Linked DNA regions of Homo sapiens: region 2 is linked to region 1. Evidence: fine-mapped expression QTL. A gene starts in region 1. The other region holds a variant in brackets. All regions are shown on one strand. Distances are from middle to middle.

Region 1 (8,101 bases):
GGTGATCTGCCTGCCTTGGCCTCCCAAAAGTGCTGGGATTACAGGCATGAGTCACCGCTCCCGGCTTATGAGGTTTCATCTTTAAACTGAAGAGTAGGTGGCATTGGAGAGAATCTCCACATTGACAAGGTCTTCTATTTGCTGACTGCTGGTCATAATACGTATCGTGCATTGTTATTTGACATTCCTCCATTCCAAGTGGCATTGATTATAAGGTACACATGAATAAGAAGATAATAAGCATTTGTATAATAGCTCAAGTGCTCTAAGACTATCAATTCAGAATTCAGAAACTTTTCGAGGTGGGTTGGGTGCAGTAGTTCACACCTATAATTCCAGCACTTTGGGAGGCTGAGGCAGGAGGATTGCTTGAGTCCAGGAGTTGGAAACCAGCCTGGGCAACACTGCAAAACCCCATCTTTACAAAAAATACATTTAGCCAGGCATGGTAGCATGTGCCTGTAGTCCCAGCTACCTGGGAGGCTGAGGTGGGAGAACTGCTTAAGCCCAAGAATTGGAGACCAATCTGGGCAACATTGCAAAACTATCTCTACAAAAAACACAAAAAATTATCTGGGCATGCTGGTGCACACCTCTGATCCCAGCTACTAGGAAGGCTGAGGCAGGAGAATGGCTTGTACCCAGGAGGCAGAAGTTGCAGTGAGCTGAGATCACGCCACTGCACTCCAGCCTGGGCGACAGAGCGAGATTTCGTCTCGAAACAACAACAAAAAAGAAACTCTTAGAGGTTAACACAAAGCTCAGGGTCATGGAAATCAAGCAGATAGGTGGTGCTTTTCAATATTTATTCCTTTTTCTTTAGACTGTTTTTTCCAACTGACAAATATTTATTATAGAGCCAGCGTTTATGCTATTCAATATCATTCCATCTTGTATGTATGGCTGAAATATTATGTTCTTACAAGAAAAGGCCAGAGGCTTCTGGAACAGGGTCTGAGTTACATGAAGGAGAAGAAGAGCAGCCTTCATTCTGTAAAAACTCGAAACCTTTGGACTGTCCAAAGTGGTGTGTGGCTTTTGAAGCGGAGCCTGCAGGCAGCGAAATCGTCCAGCTGTGTTCTCTCCTTTGTCATACCTACATGTGCAGGCCTGGACTTCCCACGTGCTACCATGAATGCAGAAATGTAGAAATTGACATATCAACAACCATTGATCGTACACTCAGCAGGCAGTTTTATTGATTGATTGATTGATTGAGATGGGGTCTCTGTCACCCAGGCTGGAGTGTAGTGGCACTATCTCGGCTCACTGCAACCTATGCCTTCTGGGCTCAAGCAATCCTCCCGCCTCAGCCTCCTGAGTAGCTGGAACTACACGTGTGTGCCGCCATGCCTGGCTGTGTTTTGTATTTTTTTGTAGAGACTGGGTTTCACTATGTCGCCTAGGCTGGTCTTGAACTCTTGAGTTCAAGCAATCCTTGCGTCTTGGCCTCCTAAATTGTTGAGATTATAGGTGTAAGCTACCATGCCTACCCTCCTAAAATATTTAACTCATATACCTTGTGACTCTAAAATACTATTTCTGAGGATATATATTCAATACACATATGTATATATGCAAGGATGTTCACTGTATTACATATGTACAAGATGTTCATTATGGCATTGTTTATAATAGCCAAAGACTGGTCACAATCTAAATTTGTATCAATAGGGGCCCTGTAAAATACTTTGTAGTGAATCCATACAATGAAATTATTTGCAATATTTTAAAAGAATAAATAAGTCTTTAGGTCCCAATGTGGAGACATCCAAATTATGTTAAGGAAAAAAGGCTTGTAGGATAGTACACATAAAATCATCTTTTTTTTTCCTTAAGAAGGGACATACTTGTATATAGGTACACACACACATACACACTCGACGTACACATAACTCCGTTTTCAAAGGTCACAAGTTATTTCCTGGGAATAGGATTGGGAGGATGTAGAATGAGGTAGGTAGAATGATTTTTGTTTGCTTTTCACTTTATATTCTTCCCTACAATTGGAAACCTGTTTTTTAGCCACCGCGCCAGGCCTAATTTAGCATTTTAGATAGTGATTGATGTTATGAAATAATATAACCAGGCAATACGAGACAGTGTGAAGGGTGCTACTTTAGGCTTGTCCTAGTAGGCTTCCTAAACAGGAGCTATCTGAGGAAAGAGGAGGAGGAAGAGCTTCCAGAGATAGCAGACTGGGGCAGGAAAGAGCCTAGTGTCCCAGGGAAATAAGGCAGGCCAGTGTGTGAGCGTCCAGGCGAGGTGGGGAAGAGGGGGAGTGCGCAAGGTACAAGCCAAGTAGGGGATTGTGTGAGAGGCGCCAGGGCCAGATCCTGCAGGGGTTTGCAGGCCGCGGTGAGGGGGTCAGATTTTCTTCCAAAGCCGCCTTGCTCTGTGCAAGCGCACTATCGCAGGCTGCGGGCGACGCTGCCTCTGGCCGGCGCCCTCCGCCGCTCCAGGCCGGATGGTGCCTCCCGTGGGCATGTAGGTGGGGATGGTGGGTTTTGCCTCTGTGCGGTCACCGCCTGTCTGCGTTGCTGCCTTCTCCGGGGCCTCAGACCCTGGAGAAAGCCCCGACAGGGGAGGGGGGCGCGCAGCCGCAGGGGCGTCCAGCTATCGCGCACTGCGGGGGGAGTAGGGGCGGGCGCAGCGCTCGGCACCGCCACGCGGGTTCGGGCCGGGGAAGGCAGGGGCCGGTACGTGACGCGGGGCATGCACGTGGCCTGGGAGTGTGCTTTTCGGGACAGGTGCGGGGGCCGCCGCGCGCGCAAAGGCGCAGACGCACGCGTGCGGGCACCGGGCACCGTCGGCCGTCGGGTTATCCTTGGCTCCGCGGGCGGCCGCCGAGGTCCTGTCCACCCGGAAGGCGCGACGTCCTCGGGGGACGCCAGGGCGCAGGGGCAACTGAGCCGACTTCGCAACTCGGAAGTTTTTCTTTGGCTGTGATGGTCGATTTGCCCGTCTAAGAAATGGGACTCTGGGCCGGGCGCGGTGGCTCAAGCCTGTAATCCCAGCGCCCTGGGAGGCTGGAAGATCGCCTGAGGCCAGCAGTCTAGACCTCGACAACGTAGCAAGACCCCGTCTCAAAAAAAAAAAAAAAAAAGGGGGAGTACTCAAAAGAATAGGAAAGCGCTTTGCAAACTTGGACACGAGTTGGGCGTTTTATTCACTTTCTCTACTACCCTCCTCCCTTTGGGAGCCCCAGGGGCTGGAGTAAGCACGCTACCACCCACTATACCTCTCAGTGCCCGCGGCACAGGAGCCGCACTCGACTTTGCATCCCCCCAGGGCCTGTACACGCCGGAAAAGCTCCCGCGGGGTGCGGTCGCTGGGCCTCGTCACGTGATCCCCACTCAACGCCCCTGAGCGGGGGGGGGAGCAGCGAGCAAGTGCGCATGCGCATCCCTTCTAGCTCTTCCCCTCCACCCCCCACCCGCCCCCTTGGCTCGGACGCAACCACTGTCAGCTCCTCCCCCTCCTCCTCCTTCATCCTTCCTGACATTCACTCCCTTCCCCCAGCCAATTGGTTACGTCAGGCAGACAGGCCGAAGAACCAATCACGACGCTGTGCTCAGAAGCCGCCACGCGGAACCGGCCGGATCCGACTAATAGGGGCCCTTGGAGCGGCCACGCCTCAACCGGGCAGGGTAGCTTGGGCCCAGTGGGCGGTGCTTCTCCTGTCAGCATGTGGGCGGGGTAGGGCGGGGACCAGCAGCCGCAGAGCCGTCCTCGGCGGTGGCGACGACGACGACGTTGCTCAGTCTTGGGGTGGGCTCCGCGGTGCAGGCCGAGCTGCGCGGAGGGCTCGGCGATCAGCGGCGGCGGCGGCAGTGGGGAGGCCGCAGCGCCATGGGGGGGCGTTAGACAGGCTGCGGCGGCCGAGGCGAGGGGCGGCAGCGGTTATCTGGTCCGCGGCGACCTTCGGCCGGGCCCGGGGGTGGGAAGGCCTGGGGCGGGGGTCGTCCCTGGTTGCACGGGGCCGCGGGGCGGGGCTCGCCGGCCGTCGGGGTGCAGGAGGCCTGGGCCGCTGAAAGGAGAAGGCGCCGTCGGTCGCCAGGCCCTGCCGCCGGGCCGCTTGACGACGACGCTCCCGCGGGGGCCCCGCCTGAGGAGGACGCGGCGGCGGTGGCGGCGAGGCCGCGGGAGGCCGCGGAGGATGGAGGAGCGGAAGGAGGAGGGCGAGGCCGAGATCCAGGAGCACGGGCCCGAGCACTGGTTCTCCAAGTGGGAGCGGCAGTGCCTGGCCGAGGCCGAACAGGACGAGCAGCTGCCCCCCGAGCTGCAGGAGGAGGCGGCGGCCGCCGCGCAGCCCGAGCACAAGCAGCAGAAGCTGTGGCACCTCTTCCAGAACTCGGCCACCGCCGTGGCCCAGCTCTACAAAGGTGAGGCCGCCGCCGCCATCTTGGTACCGCTTGGCCGCCCCCGCCCGGGCCCGGCCCCGGCCCTATCGGCTCAGCGGCCGCTTCGGGGGGCCGCGACGGCGGCGGCCTCGGGGATCCCGGCCGGTGGCTCCGCGGCCCTGCCGCCCCCTCCCCGCAAGATGGCGCCGCGGGAGGGAGGCCCGGGGTTGGGGGGACAGGCCAGAGCCGGCGTGGGGGTAGCCCCGCTTTGGGGTGGTCCGAGGGTCCCCGCTCTCCGGGCCCGGCCACCCGGTGTCCCCCTCGGCCCGGAGACGGGAGAGGAGGAGCCCCCGTCACAAAATGGCGAAGGGAGACGGCGGGGCGGCCCCATTGTGCCCTGAGCCGGCCTCGGGGCGGGGACTGCCAGGGGGGGCGCTTCCCTGCGCCGCGGCTCGTCCCTGATCTGTGCCCCTGAGCTCTGCGGCATCCCCTTTTCCCCGCCGCGACCTCCCTGCCCCCCCGGTCCTCACACTGGGTTTGGGATCCCGAAACCCCTGAACAAAATGGCGAAACCTAATATGGCCGTTCCGGAGTGATTGACGCGCAAATAACATTCTTGTTCTCTTTCTTTCTCTTTCTATGTGTGTTTCTTTTTTCTTTTTGGTTTTTTTTTTTTTTGGCTTGCTTTTCAGACCGAGTGTGTCAGCAGCCAGGACTTTCTCTCTGGGTCCCCTTCCAAAACGCAGCCACCGCCGTCACCAATCTCTACAAAGGTAAAGATAACCTTGCTGCATTGCCGATTCAGGGAAGGGCCGCCTGCGTCAGGGTGTCTGCCCTGCGTTCCAAGTGTGTTTTCTGCTCCCCAGCCCAGCTGCTAACCTTGAATACCTTGCAACTTGAGAATCGCGGCGGTGCTCTAGCTAGATCCACCGGAGGCGATTTTGACACCTCCCTCCGCCCCCCGGGACAGATGGCAACGCCTGGGGACGTTTTTGGTTGGCTTCTCCTAGAAGGGGCTGTTGTTGGGCACCCAGTGTATAGAGGCTGCTGAAGGTCCTGCAGTGCCCAAGATAACCGCCCCGGCCCCCTCTCAGCGAAGAATTATCATGCCCCTAAAGTCAGTAGTGCTCAGGTTGAGAAGCGTTGAGCTGGAAGACGGCTGAGCCTTGCCTCCCTCTGGAAAAGACATTGAGGGAAGATAAGAGTTGATGTTTTTTGTACTACAGTCGGAAGTGGGACGAACTTTATGGAAAAGATTCTTGAGTTAGGCATTTGAAAGCGTGGCAGTCTATATAGTTTTGAAGTGCTTGAAAGCTTGCTAATCGGAGTCATCTGCGCGCATGTTAACGTGCTGCTCTTCTCTAGCAATTTGATCAAGTGTTTTCTGTTAAAAGGATCCTATATTTGATTATAAGTTGCTGGCAGGAATTCTGTTGAGAGTTTTGAGTCCATAGGTTTGTTTTATGGTGGTTCCTTTCTGGAGTTAATCCCCCTCCCTTTGTGATGACATGAAGATGTGTAAGTAAACGTTCTTGCCCATTTGTGCATTCTTGGTAACGGTGGGTTTAGATTTTGTGCCTTACTGGTTTTGAAGATTGAGAAATTTGGGGTTGATTTTTTTTTTTGGCAAGATTTTTATGGAAAAAGGATTTGACTTTGTTAATCTTAAGAAATATGTAATTAAATGTTTTCAGACTTTTAAAAGTTGCTCAGAACAGTAATGGAACTTTGTGCATTTCAAAAATACCAATATTGGTATTTTTGCCATATATATTTAGGCCATATATAGGTTGAAACGGGCTATGAAGGTGCTGCTTGACTGTCAAGTTGTTAATTTTTGCATAAGAATGTGCAAATGGCCGCAGCATCTTGTAGGAAAAAATATCTCCTTGTGAGATTTCTTGAGTAGACTACAGTTTTTTGGGACAGTAATTTGAGAACTGGTAACAAAGTGGTGAAAAGAAACGCTAACTTTAGGGAATGAGGAACTGTAATAATAATAGTCCAGTCTTACTGAAAAAAGGGAAACATGGTTAAATAGTGCCTCAGTGGTTAGCTTTGATTTTATATAGCTGTTTGTTAAATTGTGACTGAGTAAATTGCTTCAACATCTATCAGTGCTGACGGTCTTGAACGTTTTGGAATGGCTCTTGGTTTTGTCCAAAAACAGAATTTTGAAATAATACTTAATTAAAAAAAAGGTTTCTGGGAGTGTAATTTACATACAGTAAAATCACTGTTTTAGGATATATACTTTGATTTTTTTTTTTTAAGAAGTAGAATATATCTATCACCCCCACCTCCCAGTCCCTGGCAGTCACTGATTTGATTGCTGTTTTTTCTCCTCCATCATGTCCTAAATAGAATGGTGCAGTCCTTGTAGCCTATTGTGTCTGGCTTGTTCCAGTTACTATGATAAGGTTCACCCATCGAGTTCGCATTGCAGGTGTGCATAGTTCAGTGCCTTTTGATTGGCTAGTATTACTCTATGGTGTGGCAGTACCATGGTTTATTCTTTTGCTTTTGTTGGTATTGCTTTGTGCTTGAAGGGGAAGGCAACACATTTTTAGTGTTTTTATGTGCCAGGTTCTTAGCCTAGGCCGTATAAAATGGGATTGTCCTCTGGCTTTGGTCCTGTTGGGTTCTTGTAGAATGTGTCCCTTTAGGACTAACCTAGCAGTTTTCGTTAGTGCTAACTTTTCGTGTAAGAAGATGGGTTCAGCAGTTGAACTCTGAAATAATCCTTAATTTGATTACTTCATTTAAAAATGTTTACAATTTGTTTGTTTTCCTGCTCAGAAAACTTAAGGAGGAACATTAATTTTATTTTTAGAAAACATCACATATGATTCTTGGATTATTGTAAATGCTAGATTGTTAGTCTGAACTAGTTTTATTTTGTACCTTGTTTCTGTACAGTGAAAACACATCCCTTGCCTAATAGAAATGGTAAGTTGTGTCTTGTGGAATTTGATAGTGCAACGTTTTCTTATTTGATTCAAGGAGTGTGTGGATAATACTCTGGATAGCCTCACACTTTTTCTTTTTCAGGGTGTGGTCTTTAGAGAACAGGCATACAGCTGTAGGAATAATTGGTTACCTTAAATAGAACCAATAAAATTAGCAAGGTGGTGTCACAAGTGCATGCAGCAGTAAGTAGTACTAAATTTAAATGATATTGGTTATAGTTCTGATTAAATATTTAAATATAATTTAAGGGGGGAAAAATTTGGTGGATACTTCTAAGTGGGCAGCAGGCAGCATTCCTGTATTTTGTATAATATCTGACAAGGTAAAAATGGCTTATTGTGCAGCCTGGGGACAATTTGGCACTCCTACCAGCTTCTTGATAACTACCAAGAAGTTCATTAGGTGTTTATCTCAATCCTGACCTTCATTAAGAAGGTCAGGATTGAGATTAAAAACCCAGCAGAGGGTCGCTTTTAGTTGTCAGAGGGCTTTTGAAAAGTTGAAAATTGAGTTAATTGGTTTGGTTGGAATGTGGCTAGAAGGATTTGGAAGATAATGTAAATGTAAGTTGAACTTCAGCAAGGACAGAATTCAATAAAATGGAGTGGGTGGTTACCTCTACTGTAAATAGTAGGGTCAGACTTGTCTTCCCCTTTCCAAAAAAGGAAGGAAGCCAAAATACTGACTGCTGGTTTTTGATTTGATAAATGCAAAGAGGATGGTGTTTCTTCAATATTCAGTAGTATCCTTAGATCAGTATATTTTTTGATTCCTGGAACTAAAGAAGG
Region 2 (8,096 bases), 25 kb after region 1:
TTAAAATGGATACAGACACTTTAAAACTGCTGAGTTTATCTTGTGTTAAGCAATTAAGACTTCTCTGTCTAATCATGCTACTTGTTCTGCTTTTGTCAATTGATACTCTCATAGCCCTTTTGAAAAAGTATGTTTTTGTAGAAATTAAGTTGTATGCCCTCAGGACGTACAACTTGGTTTTTTTTTTTTGTTTTTTTTGTTTTTTTTTGTTTTTTTTTTAGTTCTGAAGCATGTTTAGATTTTTCTGTACTTGTATAGGTCTGATTGTTTATGTGGCTTAGCTAAGGTTTCCTAAAGCATCTTCTAGTAGCTGTCATTGGTTTGTAAAATAAAATTTGGGCTGTCAAAATGCACATTTTTTGGTTGTTAATCTTAATTATTTTTGACCCTTGTGAAAAGTCTTTTTGGGGAAGATTAGGTAGGCAGACTTTGAAAATATTTTCACTGCTATGAGAGTCAGTCATAGATCATATTGCACATTAAAGTTATCAAGATAAACACCCAGGTCATACACCCAGTAGAAAAAGATGATTTCCCAGAAGCTGTTAGAATTTTCAGATTGACCAAATTGATGTTTAACACATCTTCTTTTTCATGGAGAATGGCAGCTGAAACAATAAGGAACATTTGCTTGAAATCCCTAGTCCACTTCTGATACAGTGTTTTGAGCCTTCCATATTTGTTGTTAGGTATTAAACGTGCTGCCATGAGACTCCTATGTTAACAAGGGCATTAGGGTGGGGTTTGTTGAATTCTTTTTATAATTTGAAATGATAAAGGGGATCTTGATTTTAATTATTGAAGTAGCCCAGTTTATTGCTGAACGTGCCCATATTTTGCCATAATAATTACCTTTTGGATTATGAAACAAGTACGAAAGGTTATCTTTGAAGAACATGGGCACCTTGTAATATGTTACAGGCTGAGACACTAGGATGAAAGAAGGCACATCTCTCCCCTCAAGTTTAGTCTTGCGGTAGAACTTTAAAAAAAAGCCAACAATGGGGATAATTGAGTTTTAAACTTGATGGCAATGATTTAAGTGAAGAGAACACCTGGGTTTATTTTCTGGTGTTGGAGAGGTGAATAAACATCAACAGTTGAACCTTTGATTTCAGTGGATTTCAACATGAGGGGGTAGGACTTTGAAGTATTATTCTTTTTCAGAATTCGTAAGTGCCAGGCACTGTGCTTAGGTCATTAGATGGAGATGAAAAGATATTTTCTATAGGAAGAGACGGTTGATTGTACCATGCTGTAGAAAGATAGCTCAAGATTTTTTTTTGGTTTATTTTGTTTTTTAAAAGTAAGCTTGTGCCGGTTGGGGAAGAGGAAGTGAAGTTCCTTTTTGATGGTGTTGAGTTTGAGATGTCCAGTAGGCAGTTAGAAATCTGGGAGGGCCGTTGAGCTCATTAGTCTAGTTTTGGGAAACGTGTGTGGGTAAGGTAGGGGTTGAGGATATCACCCAGGGTGACACCAGCCTTTCAGGGGCAGAAGGGAACCCCACCAAGGCGACTGAGGAGTGAGCGGAGAGTTTCAATTTCAAGGAGGGGGAAAGAGGAGCCAGCAGGAAACTAAAATGGAGAGGTAGGAGAACCAGGGAAGGAGCCTCATAAGGGAGGTGCTGGGGAACAGGTGGGCTCACTCAGGGAGTGAATGTTGGGAGAGACAGACATTTGCAAATGTTGGAAGAGACAGATAGTTGCAGGCCTCACTATTTCAGAGAGCTGCAAATTGCATGATGTTGGTAGTCGGGATACGGTCTAAGGGTGAAGTGAAGAGAGCAGGAAGGGAAGAGAGAGAAACTGTTCAAAGAGATGAGGCCTAAGAGGCAGGCTGGCCCTAGGACCAACCTGAAGCCACCTTTTTGCTAAAATACTCTAGGCTTGGAAGAGGATCAGAATAACTGAATAGGAATATAGATTACACTTGGGTGGGAGTGCCAGCTCTTGTTTACTACCTGTTGACCTTGGATGAATTAACTTTTAAACTTGGGTTTTCACCTGCAGAATGGAGATATTATAGGTGTCATAGGAAGTAATTGACATAGTACCTGACACAGGAAGTATTCTCATGTTAATGCTTCTATTTTTTAATAGGTGCTAGCCTTGGAAAGGTTGAGAGGCTGAAGAGGGACAGTTTGATTTCCTCTGACCACCAGCAGGAGGGGAGGATGTGTCTTCTGCAGGGAGAGCAGCCAGGGGGATTGGTTGGATCAGTGCAGAAAGGAATGGGGGCACCTAGAGTGCGGAGTTGAGCACCTCAGAAGGGAGGTGTGGCCCTCAGGACATTGTCAGCATGTGCGATGATAGTGGAGGCCATGGATTTGAGAACATTTCAGAGAATATTTGATGGAGGGGAACGCCAAGGGGAATGTAATAGATTTGTGATAGGAGGCAGAGACTTTTCAACTTAAAATTCAAATTTAAACTACATTTTTAGGGAGTTCATGATTAGAAAGAATGGGCCCCTGTCAAATGAAACCTCTAAGCTTACTTGAAAATCTTATAAGTCCTATTCTTTGAAAATTAATTGATAGTCAAGCAATAACAGATCCCTAGGTGAGGAGAGAATAGTGGAAGGGGAAATTCCTAAGGCAGAAGATCACTGCCAGTGACGGTAGGTTTTTAAAAATGCAACACTGTGTTTGGTGTTTCCTGGCCTGACTCATACCTTTCACAGGTTTATCCTGAATGTTTAGGAGTGGAATGTAAGTTTGGCTCTTTAACTGTGTAAGAGTTTAAGGAAAGGAATAAGTATCCATGAGTGCTGGGTATATTCTGGATTCAGTAAAGTAACTCTTTTGTTTTTGAGACGGAGTTTCGCTCTTGTCACCCAGGATGGAGTGCAGTCTCGGTTCTTTGCAACCACCGCCTCCCGGGTTCAAGCGATTCTCCTCCTTAGCCTCCCGAGTAGCTGGGATTACAGGCGCCTGCCACCACGCCGGGCTAATTTTTGTATTTTTTAGTAGAGACGAGTTTTCACCATGTTGGCCAGGCTGGTCATGAACTCCTGACCTGAAGAGATCTGCCCGGCCTCCCAAAGTGCTGGGATTACAGGTGTGAGCCACTGCGCCTGGCCTTGGATTCAGTAACTCTTAATGTTGAAAACAAAGCAGCAGGATTCTTCACAACCCTCTCCCCTCCCCACTTCCATGAAGGATTAGAGAGGCTCATGATTGAGGCTGTCCTGAAGGATATCTACCAAATACATTCCAGACCTTAGGTGATCACATAGCCTGATTTGTCCAGGGTAGACTGACTTTGTACCTCATGTCCCAGTAGAAATTTTAACAGTGACTCTTTTCGGGCTCAACAGTAATCTGTTTTGGATGGCAAGTTATGTGATCACCTTATCTAGAGGGGATGTTGGAACAAGCCCACCTAGGCCTGGAAGTGATTTCTGGCTCTCCTGAATACATCACACACATACACACTCATCAGAGGGGTCTGTTGGAATGGTAACTTTGGGTAACCAAAAATGTCTTGTCTTTAAAGCAAATGTCTCCTGTCCTTATCTGTAAATTTTGTGCAGTACCTACCTCATAGATGGGAGAATTTAATGAGATATTTGTACACCTAGCACGGTGGTTGACACGTAGTAACTTTTAGTAATTGGTAGTTACCAATATTGTAGATATTGGTAGTATTACCAATAAAATATATGTCAAGGCCAGATGATATGTTTATCCAGAATAAAACTTAATTGCTTACTAGTAATCCCTTATAAAGGAAATAGGCAGACATGCTTTGACATTGTGACAACATGGAAAGTAAGTGGGTTGCTTTCAAAAGGGTTACATAATTGAGCAACTCTAAAACCTTTTTTCTTCTTCCTAGGTCTTAGTGGTGCAATGGCTAGTATAAGCGTGCGTTCGAGTACCCCAGGCTCTCCTACACATGTAAGCAGTGGATCGAATGCTAGTCGAAGGAGAAATGGACTCCATGATGTCGATTTGAACACTTTCATATCAGAAGAAATGGCACTCCACTTGGACAATGGTGGAACTAGAAAGCGTACCTCAGCCCAGTGTGGCGATGTCATTACAGACTCACCAACCCATAAACGCAACAGAATGATCTAAACTGCAAACATTTTCACACCCACCATGCTGCTTGAAAGCCACTTGATCCTCAACATATACTATAATTGCAAAGGAAACATGAGGCCATCTTCCCTTGTTCACTGTTTAAGACAAGTGAATTCTATAGTGGTTGCCATAAAAGGAAGTTCTAGGTATTTATAGTAGATGCCTCTTGTAATTATGGCTTTCTTAAAACTATAATCCTAGCAGAGGACATCAGATATTGTGTAGTCGTTAGCAAGATCATCATAGGCAAACATATATCCGTTCCAAGGCTAAAAGTGACCTTAACTGTATTTATTCTCAAAGGGAAAGGAAATATCAGATGTTTATTTGGTTATAGAATGCTTTTTTTTTTTTTGGGTCCATTTCCTGCTGTGTTGAGTATTTTGCTTCAACAGTATTGCCAGGTTCCTAAAATTGTCTAAAAACATGATTTGGCTTCCATTTTTGCAGCTGCACTGTACCATGCACCTGGTTTCTATATAGTAACAGTGTGCAATTCTAATTATTGGACTGTGCCCT[G/C]TTTTTAGTTTTCAAATCAATTTCTAATTCTGGTGATTGTGTGATGTAAAGAGGTGCTATGATGGTCATGCAATTAATACTAAATATTGAATCAATGCCCAGAGCTTTATTGGATTCACTTTGTGTGTGTTAGTGCTCTAAAGTAGCAGTATTATTATTAAACTGTCCCCAGAGTAACCCTGTAGGCCTAAAGTACTCAGTTTTAAGACAAACACTACTTCCCATGCGGGGTACTTTCCTTATGGTAAATGTAAACATGTAGACTGCATTCGAGGTGACCTAAAGTAGAGAGGTCATGAACTTTGAGAATGGGCTTCCTTTTTGGTTCAGTATTAGTGAGAGGGAGAGGGAGATGGATGGTGGGGTAGGTTTTCTAGTCTATCATTTTACATTTTTCATGGAGTCCCTGCTTAGTGCAGTTTCCATTGGAATGGGTGGAAGATGATAAAGCTCTCTTTTTTATCTACTAATAATGTGATTGCAACTTAAAATAGCAAAACCCAACTCTCCCTGTCCCTCCAATCCCTCTCCTAAAAAGTTCAGTTTGGAATCTCATTCTGGAAAAGATGGAATCGCATGGAGATTCTCTAGCTGTTAGGTAGACCTAAATAAAAAGTTCTCAATAGATTCCTCTTTTGAGTAAATATAAGACCTCTTGTAGCTACAATGTTTTAGAGCATGTTTCATCTTCATTTTTAATATCCTGAACTGAATGATAGTGTTTTTTTAGATGAAGAACTGATGTCAGCCTGCCAGGTACTGTAATTTATTCTATCATATTATTATATTATATATCAAGTAGGACAGTGAAAAATGTTTCCTTGCAAACTTGTAGTCCAGTATCAGTTACTTCCTATTTTTATCCTTAAAAGACCATTGCAAATCAGTGTAAGGGTTTTTCCAGTAATTACTCACAGCACTTTGTTAAAGTTTGCAATTTCTTCAGCCATTTAATAATATCTTTCTGTGAAGAAACTTTGCTGAGTTAACCATAAATGTTCATTCATTGACTGGGTGGGATGTGAATGGAATGTTAGAAATGTTGTGTGAATTGAAGTTCTGTATTCATTATAGATGTAGCCCTTATTTAAAAAAGTGAATTCCATACTAAAACTAGGAATGAAAGTGAGAGATTTCTAAACTTTTGCGAAAGTGGGTCATTTTTTGTTTGACTATAATAGCAGGAAGAATTATAGCAATCTGTCATTTTACCTGAAACAGACAAGCCTATGTATTATGAATACTTTCAAGCTTCCCTTTGGAATATACAAGACATGCGTTTGGAGTTACCTTTGTTTTTCTATCGTAAATTTAGATTCTGGAATTGGGGTTTGGTGGTGCAATGTGTTGCTCACAAGTGGCCAGAACTCCTATTCCTAAAAGGATTTTGAGATGGAGGAACACATATTTAATTCCCCTTTATGCCTTGGTTCTTGCTCCTCTTTCCACGTTGGATAACAATTTTTTGGTTGTTTTGTTTAAGTTGGTGCTCTGAAGCTTAATCTCAGTACCCTTTACTCTGAATTGTCAAATTTTGATAAAACGTGCCATTTTCTTTGGTAAGAGAAAGCAGGTCTTAATGTCTGCCAGAACACAATTTATATGCCTTATTGGCTTCATTAAACTTTTAGAAAACTTTAGCATTTGTTACTTTTTTCCATTGCGTTTACTTTCAAATGCACCTAATGAATTTGTCACCCAGTCGCAACTTTTCCCTTCTCTGTCCCATTGCTTTCTCCTTTCCCCGACGCACAGAATAAACATGAAGCTCAGCAGTAGAAGCGTAATGATTTCCCTCAGGAAAAACTTCTGACAGCTAGGTTTTTCAAGGGTTTCCCTGTGCTAGCTGAGATGCAAAACAAATCATGGAAGATTGCATACCTGTGTGGTATTTTAAAAACAAGTTGACTTTTTCAGTTTCTTGAACGGTTAAGGGTGGATTTAAAAACTAGACAGTTTAGTTTTGGGGAACAGAAGCTCTCTTCGTCTTAAGCCAGATTCTCTGATTCTTTTAGACGTCATAGCTCCTTAGTTCTGCTCCTGTCGCCCTAACTTGGCATGGGCAAGTTGAAGTTCATCCTTAGACTGCAGCGTTCTGAGCATGGCTGAAGTATTAAAATGTTTAATATTTTTTAGAGCAAAATTGTTGGAAAGCATTTGGCTGAATCTAAAGACCTGCAGTCAGATTCTTCAATGTGGTTTACCCAACTGGAGTAGTGATAAACACCTTAATCATAAAATGAATAAAAACAAAAAAACCATGGGGCTTGTCTGCAGTTTTGTTTTGGTCATCACATCTGAATAACTTTTTGATGCAATCAAATGAAGTTTAGGCTTTTAAAAAAGAATTAGCTTTCTAAATGTTTTTTTCTAAGGGCTACTGGAACTCATTAAACTCGAATAATTGTGGCTTTGGGCCTGAAGATTTCCATTCAACAGTGAAAACTGGCTAACTTCCTTTATAGTGAGAGGGATGGCCAACATCCAACCCAGAGGGCTAGTCAGCCTCAGAGGCCAGTGCAAGACGCCAAGAGATGATTTTGAAATGGGGCCATAAGTTTAGAAAATTATGAACAGAATGATTGAGTTTTTGGCCTGGCTACTACCTCTAGTGGTGACTACGTCAGCAGATTAATCTCATTGCATTTTACTTTATGTAGTATGTTGTAACCTGGTGCTTCATTCATTAGATTGGTGACTGAGGTATTTAGTCATGGTGAGGATGGGAATCTTCAGAGATACATTCTGGATTTGTGGAATAAAGTGACTAGAAAGGTTCTTCCAGAGCAACCCCTTGTTTAAAGTTATAAGTGTTTATGGTACCTGCTACCCCTTCTGGAAAGTTGTCGGCTTTGATGGTTTAGATGACCTTACCCCATAAGGCCAGCTTCTAGCCTCCCTTTGGAATATTTGAGGTGTGTGATGTTTTAGTGGGGGCAGCATTTGAGAGACGAGCAGGCCCGAGCACCCAGGCTGGCTGTCAGACCGTGTGTTGTGCTGTTGGGTTTGATGGGATGAGATATCCAGGGTTTTACTTCCTATAATGGGATCTGCAGGCTCCTTGTGAAGTTCAGTTAGACAGTAGCCTGTGACGTAGCAAGTCAAGTTTTCGATGGCCCCTCATTTTTTTTTTATTTAGTGCTTAAAAAAAAGATTTAAAACAGCAAAAATCAAGCCACACAGCAGCTTATAGTATATACAGGTCTTTTATACATTAGAAGTAATATGGTGAAATCTTTTTTTTTTTTTTTTTTTTTTGTGATGGAGTTTCACTCTCTCACCCAGGCTGGAGTGCAGTGGCACGATCTTGGCTCACCACAACCTCTGCCTCCTGGGTTCAAGCAATTTTCATGCCTCAGCCTCCCGAGTAGCTGGTATTACAGGTGCCTGCCACCACACCTGGCTATTTTTTGTATTTTTGTTAGATACGGGGTTTCAAATATGGTGAAATCTTGTGACAGAATAGTATTCCCTTGTACAGATAAGC

Evidence for each region. PIP is the estimated chance that this variant, and not a neighbour inherited with it, causes the effect.
Region 2: its variant is fine-mapped to the expression of HAPSTR1 in whole blood (INTERVAL, PIP above 0.99).

The regions. Positions count from the first base shown.
Region 1 is chr16:9,087,886-9,095,986 of GRCh38, forward strand. It overlaps HAPSTR1 (HUWE1 associated protein modifying stress responses), which reads left to right and starts at 3,759. Exons shown (of 4, transcript NM_014117.3): 1 at 3,759-4,385; 2 at 5,036-5,116. The coding sequence starts at 4,160. RefSeq lists enhancers at 1,924-2,789, 5,059-5,228 and silencers at 2,700-2,830, 3,619-3,688, 3,859-4,198, 4,409-4,908.
Region 2 is chr16:9,112,829-9,120,924 of GRCh38, forward strand. HAPSTR1 (HUWE1 associated protein modifying stress responses) reads left to right here. Exons shown (of 4, transcript NM_014117.3): 4 at 3,840-8,096. The coding sequence ends at 4,084. Among named protein-coding and RNA genes, the nearest start is that of HAPSTR1, 25 kb to the left of the region's middle. RefSeq lists a silencer at 2,484-2,778. The variant G/C (reference allele first, on the strand shown) is at 4,610.